Regions from separate parts of the Homo sapiens genome. Here region 2 is linked to region 1. Evidence: fine-mapped expression QTL. A gene starts in region 1. The other region holds a variant in brackets. All regions are shown on one strand. Distances are between the middles of the regions.

Region 1 (5,371 bases):
TTTGGAAAGCCCTTGGCCTAGAGGAGGGGTCCACTCAGATGGCTGGCAGGCTTAGAATTTTATTTTTGGTTTATAGTCACTAAAGTTGGTATACAGGCGCCCACTACTAAATTCCACTGGCTTCAAAAATAAATAAATAAAAGATTAGAAGAAAAATATCCTCCAGATTTGGGAGATGTCCACAAGATTAGTTGACTCTGAGTTACAGGAGCTGGAAGCACTTGGGAAGTCAAGACTGGCTCTTCTCTTTGCTCTGTAAAATGCCCGGAAGTTCATGTAAGTGCCGTGCAGCCACCAAGGTGACAAGCATGAACCAGCCTCTGCCTAAAGTTACCCACTACCCAGAAGAAGGACTTTTCAATTCCAGATCTTGTGGCTTTTTTTTTTTTTTTTGAGATGGAGTCTTGCTCTGCTGCCCAGGCTGAAGTGCAGTGGCGCAATCTCTGTTTACTGCAACCTCCTCCTCCTGGGTTCAAGCGATTCTGCTGCCTCAGCCTCCCCAGTAGCTGGGATTATAGGCACGTGCCACCATGCCCAGCTAATTTTTGTATTTTTTAGTAGAGACAGGGTTTAATAATGTTGGCCAGGCTGGTCTCGAACTCCTGACCTCATGATCTGCCTGCCTCAGCCTCCCAAAGTGCTGGGATTACAGACGTGAGTCACCGCGCCCAGCCTCTTGTGGCTATTTCTACAGATCTGCTCCTGACAATAGGCAATGGACCAAAAATATTGAGGGTGACAGAGATGAAGAGAAGTACCTAAAGAAGGCCGGGCACAGTGGCTCGCGCCTGTAATCCCAGCACTTTGGGAGGCTAAGGCGGGTGGATCACGAGGTCAGGAGTTCAAGACCAGCCTGGCCAAGATGGTGAACCCCCATCTCTACTAAAAATACAAAAATTAGCCAGGCGTGGTGGTGGGCACCTGTATTCCCAGCTACTTGGGAGGCTGAGGCAGAGAATTGCTTGAACCTGGGAGGTGGAGGTTGCAGTGAGCCGAGATCACGTCACTGTACTCCAGCCTGGGCAACAAGAGCGAGACTCTGTCTGAAGAAAAAAAAAAAAAAAGATAGGCTGGTGCAGTGGCTCACGCCTGTAATCCAAGAACCTTGGGAGGCCAAGGCAGGTGGATCGCTTGAGGCCAGGAGTTTGAGACCATGCTGGACAACATGGTAAAACCCCATCTCTACAAAAAATACAAAAATTGGCCAGGTGTGGTGGCATGCGCCTGTAGTCCCAGCTACTCAGGAAGTTGAGGTGGGAAGATCACCAGAGCCCAGGGAGACTGAGGCTGTAGTGAGCCGTGATCATGCCACCGCACTCCAGCCTAGGTGACAGAGAGAGACACGGGAAAAAAAAAAAGAAACCTAAAGAAAAGAAAGGGTCTGCAGGTCCCCTAATCCAAAAGGAGAAAAGTCCTGAAGTTTTTGCTATTTTCACTCTAACCAGTATGGTGCCCAGAGATCCAAGTGGCAGATAAATGGCAAGCCTCCAGGATAGCACAGAGCTGGAGGGAAAGTGAGGGCTGCCTGACAAGGGAGGGCCACCCATCATACTCTCTCCCCAATGTTAATTCTTCCAGCCACTCCTGGCTCAAACAGGACGCTAAGAAGTATCCCCAAAGGGAGTCACCCCCACTGTTGCCCAGTAAATAATTTAAAAGCAAAAATGTAGGAAACTCAGGAGAAGGTCAAACAAGTCCACTAGAGGGAGCCCCAACCAACTCTATGCTACAGGGAGCCTCACAAAGCAATGTCTCAACACCTGTCTGAAAATCAACCACACAAGGGAATGGGGAAATGTAGCAATAGATTAAGTCACTAGGAGAGAAGATAGCCATGTAAACACGCAGCTAAAACACAGGCTTTTCAAGAGCTGCAAAATCAAACAATTAAAGATCAGGAAACTGATGCTGAGCAAAGTCAAATGGCTCGCCTCAGTTTACATATCCACAGTTGGGACTCAAACTCACATGTCTTGTCTCTAACCTGAGCTCTTTCCTCCACACTTGCATCCCTCTAGGTCAGTACCCTAGAGTCCATGGGTCCACTATTCCTCTGCGTCTCATTTCTCTGAAGTGGGAAACTCCCTGGACTACCTATTCCTGCACTTATTACCCTCATTCTACAGTGTACTGAAGAGGATCTTCGGTGGTCTGGGAGTTTTGTTTGTTTGAGACAGGGTCTCCCTCTGTCATCCAGGCTGGAGTGCAGTGGTGCAATCATAGCTCACTGCTGCCTCAACCTCCCAGGCTCAAGTGATTCTCCTGCTTCAGCCTCCCAAGTAGCTGAGACTACAGGTGTGCACCACCACACCAGGCTAATTTTTTAATTTTTTTGTAGAAATGAGGTCTCACTGTGTTGTCCAGGCTGGTCTCGAACTCCTGGCCTCAAGTAATCCTCCTGCCTCAGCTTCTCAAAATGCTGGGATTATAGGCACGAGCCACCGCCCCAGCTTAGATCTTCAGTTTTAAGCCTACTAATGTCATTTTGCTGGTGGGACCTCGGGATGTCAGTTGTCCAACATGGCTACTGTCAGTCCTTTTCCTCTGTATCAGCACCACATATTATCTCAGATGTGTACATCTGAATTTGGAAGTCTCCAAATTGCAGGCCATGTCTACATGGCAATGAATCATAACTAATCGACCTCCAAAGCCCTTTCTTTTCAAACTATACTTAGGATTTTGGGATAAGGAAAGAACTGACCCTTTGAGACCTTGATATTTTAAACTTTGTGAGCTGATTTAGCCCATTCCACCTTCCTGTGAACTCCATGTTTCCCAGTTGCCTGGACAACATACAGCCTCTGGAAACCCAACCTTCCAGCCCTCAGTCCTGCCCTCAAGAGAAATTTGCCACCAAGGATTGGCTCCCAGGACCCAGGCCCCGCCTCAGGCTCCTCGCTAGTTGGGCCTTCTCTCTGCCACTCCCCACGAGTGGGTCACTCCACGGGGAGCCCCAACGCTGGCAGGAGAGGATCCTACAGGTAGGAAGTGAGGGTTGAGGATGATGGGAAGAGGGAGGGGAGCAGGTACAGGGATTTCGTTTCTCTAAAAGAGAGTTGCAAGGAATGACTTCTGTACAGAGTCAGCCTGGTTGAGAGAAAAAACTCCATCCTCCCCACTGACCCCAACCCTGTCTGAGGTTCCAAAGAGACTGTGAACTGACTTTTCTGAAGGATATGAGAGACAAATTTGGACTCAGGAGAGTCTCCTGGTTCAGTCTAAAGCTCAGGAAAGCATCCCTGTGTCCAGACCTAAACATAAGGTCCCCTCCTTCTCCCAGGACAGCAAGGAGATGCCACCTAAAAACAAAGAAAAAGGGAAGAAATCTGGGGCACAGAAGAAGAAAAAGAACTGGGGTGAGTCATGGTGGGTGGAGGTGCCCCCTGCTTCTCCATGTTCTGCCATGAAGACCACGCAGAGCTCCTCCAGAGAGAATTCAGCCTTCTGCAGGACAGGATGGAGCTCTCTTGACCTACCTCTTTCATGTCCTCACAGCCAGATCCAGGGAGCTGAGGAAGTGGGGAAATGGTCACCCACGCTCTCCTTTAAGCCCCATCTAGCTCTGTGCCTTCCTAATATATTTGTCATGTGTATTTTGCATATCTGTTATGTGCTGGTCGGTGAGGACACGGTGCTGACTTCAGTAGACTCTGCCACTGTGGATACCTCATTTAGTGGTCCTCAGGTCTGCTGTGGCAAAAGTGCAGGGTGTGGGGTGAGGATGTGAGCAGAGTGAGGAATGCTGAGATCATGAAGAGCTGAGGCTCTGCCACTTGCCACCGCAGGTGCAGATGTGGTGGCCGAGTCCAGGCACAGGCTGGTGGTGCTGGAGAAGGAGCTGCTCCGAGACCACTTGGGTAAGGAGGGTAGAAGCTGGCATGGGTGGGCAACAGGGGAAGTGAAATGGGGCATTTCTGTATCCTGGGGGATTGGAGAGTTGGAGGTATGGTGGGGGGTTAAGTTGACCCTAACCATCCCCTAGTGGAAAAAGATGATGAGAGAGGGTGGGCAGTGAGAGTTGATAAAGGAAGGTGTTTTTTTTGTTTGTTTGTTTTTTGTTTTTTTTGGTTTTTTTGACAGAATTTTGCTCTATTGCCCGGGCTGGAGTGCAGTGGTATGGTCATAGTCCACTGTAATCTCTAACTCCTGGGCCGCAACAATCTTCCCGCCTCAGCCTCCCGAGTAGCTGGTATTACAGGTGCACACCACCATGCCTGGCTACTTTATTTATTTATTTTTTTTTTTTTTTTTTTTTTTTTTTTTTGAGACAGAGTCTTGTGCTCTGTCGCCCAGGCTGGAGTGCAGTGGTGTGATCTCGGCTCACTGCAACCTCTGCCTCCCAGGTTCAAGCGATTCTCCTGCCTCAGCCTCCCGAGTAGCTGGGATTACAGGCACGTGGCCACCACACCTGGCTAATTTTTGTATTCTTAGTAGAGACGGGTTTTCACCATGTTGGCCAGGCTGGTCTCGAACTCTTGACCTTGTGTCCCACCAGCCTTGGCCTCCCGAAGTGCTGGGATTACAGGCGTGAGCCACCGCGCCTGGCCCTATTTATTTTATAGAGACAAGGTCTCACTCTGTTGCCCAGGCAGGTCTCAAACTCCTGGCCTCAAGCAATTCTCCCACCTAAGCCTCCCAAAATATTGGGATTACAGGCATGAGCCACCATGCCAGGCTATCCGAAAAGAACATAGAGGGAGTTTTTACTTCTTAATAATGAGGAGCCTGTGAGACTCTAGGGATAAAAAACAAAAACAACAAAACCCAGAGAGAGAGTAAGAGGCTGGACACCCCACCACCAGATTTCTAGAGGTGGGCAAAGTCCATCACGTTCATGGGGGCTGATTTAGTGGGACCCAGCCAGTCCTGACGGCGGCTCTGGGACTGCTCACAGCTCTACGGAGGGATGAAGCCCGTCGAGCCAAGGCTTCCGAAGACCAGCTGAGGCAGAGGCTGCAAGGGGTGGAGGCTGAGCTGGAAGGGGCCCGAAGTGAAGGGAAGGCCATATATGCAGGTGTGTGGTCGGTTAAGCAGGTGGGCAGGAGACAGGGGCTTGGAGGAGGACAACCAACAGGGTCAGTTGATGCAAGGAAGGGAAACAAGGAGGGCTTCCGACTGCCAGGCCTGGTCTTGGTCTTTCCCAAACAGTACAAATCAGGAAGGATCCTGCAGGAACCAAAGGCAGGTAGGTTCCTGGGATCCCAGGCAGGGGCCTTCCAGGATGCCTGGTGCCATGTGCTTGATGCTGTGTAGGATACACATGCAGTCATAGCCATCATCTCAATCAGCCCATGGGCGGGGAGAAGGGCTAGCATCCCCATCCAAAGCTGGACTGGGGGAGGTAGGTCGGGCTTCCTGTCCCTTCCTC
Region 2 (5,320 bases), 110 kb before region 1:
TGCTAAAAATTGTTTTGTTTTGAGTAAAGGAAAAAGATATATAAGGTTAAAAATCCCAAGTCACCACAGCCAGAAAACAGACGTAGGAGGTGCCTCATAGCTGCCATGCCCCTACCACATGTGTCAGCAGGAAGTCAGGCTTTTCTTTCAAGGCCAAGACACTAGAACAGTGCTGAGCAGGGTAGGTCAGGAGGCATTTACTCTCATGGGCATTGCGTTGCAGGCTCACTCACCCAGACAGCAGGAGAAACAGGCCATGGAAGACAACACGTGGTCTACAGACTCATAAGTAGTTCTCTGCCTCTCCAGTTTTAAGATGGCCATAAGCATGGCCACCCTCACCCACAAGAAGGTCAGAGGTAGGTAGAGAGGAGGGAGCTGACACACAGGCACCCAGGACACCCTGCTTCAGGGCTCAGCATGGAGGTGGCACAAGGCCTGAGGAGTTGCACATAGCACGCATTGAGCAATACTCCTCTCTGGCCTCCTGTCTGATTTAGGGGCAGAAGGAGAATGTAGGAGAGGCAATGTTGGTGGGGAGGGGGCGGGGCCTGACATTCATTTTTGGGACTGAATCAGGCAATCAGGACTCTGCTGATTTCTTCAGCTGCCAAATCAGGAGATCTGAGGTTGGCTTTTGGGCTTTGCTCTGTACAAACACAGGGAGTGGTCGGCTGCATTTTTCTCAAGCTCTGTACCCAGGAAGGGGCGGCAAGAGCACCACACAGCTTAGTCTGTCTGTCAACAGCCGGCCCTTCCACCCGTGCTCCCCACCTGACTCGCCATGGACATGCGGGGCTTGCTCTCCCCATCCCTATTTCCCCATCTCCTACTCTTTTGCTACTTTCCAGAACCAAGAAATACTGGTATTTCCCACTGGAACCAACCCAGATTTCCTGGGACACAGTGAAGGCACATGGCACTGCTGTCCCTCTGCTGCTTAACTCAGGAGCCTAGTCTACAACATCAAAGGCAAAGTCTGATGACCCACCCTTCCTCCCTTGATGGACATCTTTGGATTATTAGGTAACTTCTGTGTGTATCAAATGACTCTAGTAGTTTAAAAAACTTTTAAGTAAGGCAGTATGAAATACCTTACAACTCAGGACAGGCTCTGAGATGAGAGAAATATAAGATCAAAAGATTTAGGCAAGCAAAAGCATAGTTTTAAAAAAAAACAGAAAAGGAAAGCTTTTATATAGGACTAAAATGAAAGCAATTGCCAGAGAAGACACAGGTATACTGTCTAAAGAGCTCTCGGTAAAAACTCTATCCTAAACTGGAATCTATATTTAATTTCTATCCTGGCAACTGCTCCAATATTATATATTCTTACTGGCTCTGGCAAAGTAGTTTCTGAGGTGCCTAGGAAGGCTTGCCTGAGAACATTACTGCAGAGCGGCCCTCACACAGGAAGGAGCGAGAGGGTGAGGAGGAGAGTGGAGGAGACAGGCCACAAGCCCAGAGAATGAACATTTTCAAGCACTCAAACCTGAAGAGGACCCAGAAGTCCATGGATAGTGGCTACAGTGGAACCCGTTATTAGATTCTGCTCTCTAAATAAACACGGAAGAAGGCAAAAGACCTGAGGCTGAATGGAGGCTAAGGAAGGCTACCCAGGAACAGGCTAGCTCTGGAACAGGACAGGCTGGCCCACAAGAGGGAGGGAAGAAATCTTGGATGCGAAGACTGACAAAGGGAAGAAAAACAGGAAATAAAGAAGACAATGACCAGAATTAAGTTAAACCTAAGAATTTCTATGATGTCCCAGACAAACTCCTGTGCCTTCCTGTCCACTAAGCAAAAAGGCAGGAGTAGTGGCTTTACTTCTTGAGTAGAAGCCTTTTTAGGGTGTCTGTGGAGTCTCTGCTCACTTCTCTGAGAAGCTCCCTGTCTCCAGCTGAAGGAGCCTGCCACATCTCTGCTCTCCCTGGCAAGGCCAACTGCTCAGAGATAGATACTTGATCAATGTGCTGGGCTGAGTGTAGTTTTTTTTAAGAATACGAAGTATGGGCCGGGCGCGGTGGCTCACGCCTGTAATCTTAGCACTTTGGGAGGCCGAGGTGGGTGGATCATGAGGGTCAGGAGTTCAAGACCAGCCTAGCCAAGACGGTGAAACCCTGTCTCTACTAAAAATATGAACATTAGCTGGGCATGGTGGCAGGCGCCTGTAATCCCAGCTACTCGGGAGGTTGAGGCAGAGAACTGCTTGAACCTGGGAGGCAGAGGTTGTGGTGAGTTGAGACTGCACCACTGCACTCCAGCCTGGGCGACACAGCGAGACTCCATCTCAAAAAAAAAAAAAATTAAGTATGGGAAATTGAGAATTTGTTCATGGTGATCCCCAGAGTTGGAAGGTGGTGTAGACTTGAGGACTAGAGTGCCTATTTGGGGGCCACATATACCATAAGCAGACTGTGAAGCGGGAGAAAGGACTAGGTGCAAAGCTCTGCAGTTCCAGCTCCACCCAAGAACCAAAGGCACTTCCCGTCCTGGGTTCTGCGAAATACCCTGCATCCTTACCACAACTCCACTCCCTCCTTTATTCCGCTTGAACATTTCTGTTTCTTG[G/T]ATCCAAAGAATCCCTAAGCAGTCAAAAATATAACCTTGACCGTCCTTCACTATCCACCACCCTCTAGGCATTAAGCCGTTCTATGTATTTCCAACAAAACACTGCTCATGGAGACTGAGTTCAAAGGAGTGATAGTAATAGTTTATGCTGAGTTACAGTATTTTAGATTGAGCTTCTAAAGCTCTAAGGTCTGGTAGAATGATGTGTGGACACTAAGCTTTAGAATCCCTAAACTCCTTGCTCTGGGAGGGAGGTAAAGGCTGACAATTAGGGGACTGATGGAGTTCAATCTGTATTAATGTCTGGCTCTTGGAAGACCCAACAACTGACTAAAGGATCTTTGGGTCCTGAGACCCGAAGACAGGGCCCACACCTCCAGCCCTTCTAAAACATAGTTAGCCACAACGGTTGTTGAAAGACTGGAAAACCAATTCCAAATAGTACAGGACATGGTGACAGGTCCCATAAGGGTGATACGAAAATCCTCCCAACAAGGGGGATTAGGGACGTAGCAGCTCAGGAAAAAGTTCAAGGAAGGCACTAGATTGGAAAGGGGAGTGTGGGCAGATGCTTTGCTTAAACATTTAATGCCCTACTGTGCAACTCTGAGCCAACTTACCTTTCAACTCACCAAACAGATTCTAATTATGTTGGAACAAATTCCAACATAAAAACAGTCGGTATCCATGACACTTACACCAAGGAATCTCCCAGGCATTATCAAAGCTACAGGAGACAACAGGGGATAATGGGAGAATCTTGGCCTGTTATTAACCAGGATAGCTCTATGAGGAAAGGTAAGTCTACATGGAAGAGCTGTGAATAAAAATTGCACAATCTTACTGGGAAGAGCTATTTTAAGGTCAAACGCAGAGGCTATGACAGTCCAAGTACAATCCCCCAAACATTAGTAAACTACTATGTGGCGCCAAGGGAAGGACACATACCTGACATTTCTGGCACATGGTCATCACTCATAAACATTTGCTGGATGAACAAACAAACTGTTAGAGCCAGACCAATAGTCAGAAAACTATTTTTCAATGAACAGTGGTCATTCCAGAGTCAGAAAGGCCAACGGCAAGAAGAGGGACTTATAGTTTGAGAAGGTCTATAATCTTCTGACTTTAATGACGTGAGGTAGGAGAATATTCTGCTTTATCACCATTGCTGAACACCTACAAAAAGAACTAGATCTTAAAGGGAATATATAGATGGTCCCTAGTTTTTACAAGGAAATTTTGTTATAAAAATTTGTGAGTTGACTGTTTGGGACCATAAACACATTTTACTTTTCTATAGAGAAAACACATATTTTAAGAGTGATGAACAGTGACCCCCACCTCCCTTAACCAGAAATCTTTTAAATCTACAAAATAGTTAAATAATACTAACAGTAGTATCCCACATCTTGGGCCCCAGTAATGAGGGTCTGTATAAGAAGAGAAAGAGAGGAGAAGAATGGTAGATTATGCAGAATGGGGCTGGGGGGAGACGAGCAAGTGGAAGAGAACGGCCACCCACAGGTAGAGAGCACTATTCACAAAAATATTAACAGGTAAATGCTGAGATGAGAAGCTGCCTGGTCTATTACTTAACTAAAGGGAGGTATATGAAGAGCCCACAGGTTTTTCCATTTTAAGAACCCTCTACTTTAGTGGAAGGAACATGGCGACAGCTGGAAAGGTCCAGTTGCTGCTCTGCAGCAACCCCGCAACAAGGCAGCTTGGAAAGCAATCCGTGAAGACCCAGGGAAAGCATGAGACTGGCTGAATACAACAGCCCAATGAATATGAGAAAAAGAGAACAAAGTAGTGTGGGTTTTTTTACTTTATTAGCCACTAGGAAGGGACAAGCGGAAGGGCTTGCCCAAAATGGCAAAACTCGAAGTCTGTTCATAAAAGGCAGTTTTAATTAAATTCAGAGCAAAGCCAAAGACTTTTAAATTGCCATACAAATGGAGGGTGAAGAATGGGTTACTGGTGCCTTAGTCAACAGAAAATATAAGAAATTAAGGTTTTGAGAATAACCTCAAAACAAAAGCCACATGAAAACTTTCCTTAATCTTGCCTGGCAATCTCAGGCACAGACCCAGGTGTGTCCTCACAGCACCCAGTCAAAGGAAAGATCCTCATGAAATGATCCAAAACCTTGAATGCTGGCAGATACCTGTGACAAACTGACACCCAAGCCCATGGATGGCACACACACACAACACAGGGAGCTGGAGCCTCAGTTTCACGCTGATTCAAAGAGCCACACAGGACTCAAAAAAGGAAAAGTCGAGACTGCCCTTAACCTACACAGTAGGGAGATAATCTCCAGAGAAGATTTAGATGCATGGAAAAGGCAAAAGATATATAGCCAATGCTTTGTCTTCCAAAGAGATCTTTAGACTACAGGCAATATCTGCAGATAAAGAAAAATTACAATATGGATGGGCCTGGAAACTGCTTTTTTTTTTCTAGTTCTTTGTCTAGGCCTTCAATATTTAAACAAAATGCAAAACTGAACGTTACCTCAAAATGAAACAGTGTGTGTACTGGCTGTTAGAAGTTGATGGCGGTCTACTGTTTGATATTCACTGCCATCTTCCTCTGCCCCACTCTACCTCAACTCGGGACCGCCTCACCTAATGGTGGGCTTTGCCGCTTTATGCCATGTAGAGAAGACACTGGGTAACCACAGCAAATCAACACGAGATCCTGTACTGCCTACTCTGGGAATATAAATGGCTCTGAGGCCAGG

The links.
Region 2: its variant is fine-mapped to the expression of DRC12 in esophagus mucosa (GTEx, PIP above 0.99).

Annotation. Positions count from the first base shown.
Region 1 is chr11:119,193,412-119,198,782 of GRCh38, reverse strand. It overlaps DRC12 (dynein regulatory complex subunit 12 homolog), which reads left to right and starts at 2,942. Exons shown (of 7, transcript NM_001145018.3): 1 at 2,942-2,984; 2 at 3,284-3,359; 3 at 3,789-3,860; 4 at 4,898-5,017. The coding sequence starts at 3,296.
Region 2 is chr11:119,301,617-119,306,936 of GRCh38, reverse strand. CBL (Cbl proto-oncogene) reads right to left here. Exons shown (of 16, transcript NM_005188.4): 16 at 1-5,320. Among named protein-coding and RNA genes, the nearest start is that of MIR6756, 8.7 kb to the left of the region's middle. RefSeq lists an enhancer at 1-449. The variant G/T (reference allele first, on the strand shown) is at 2,572.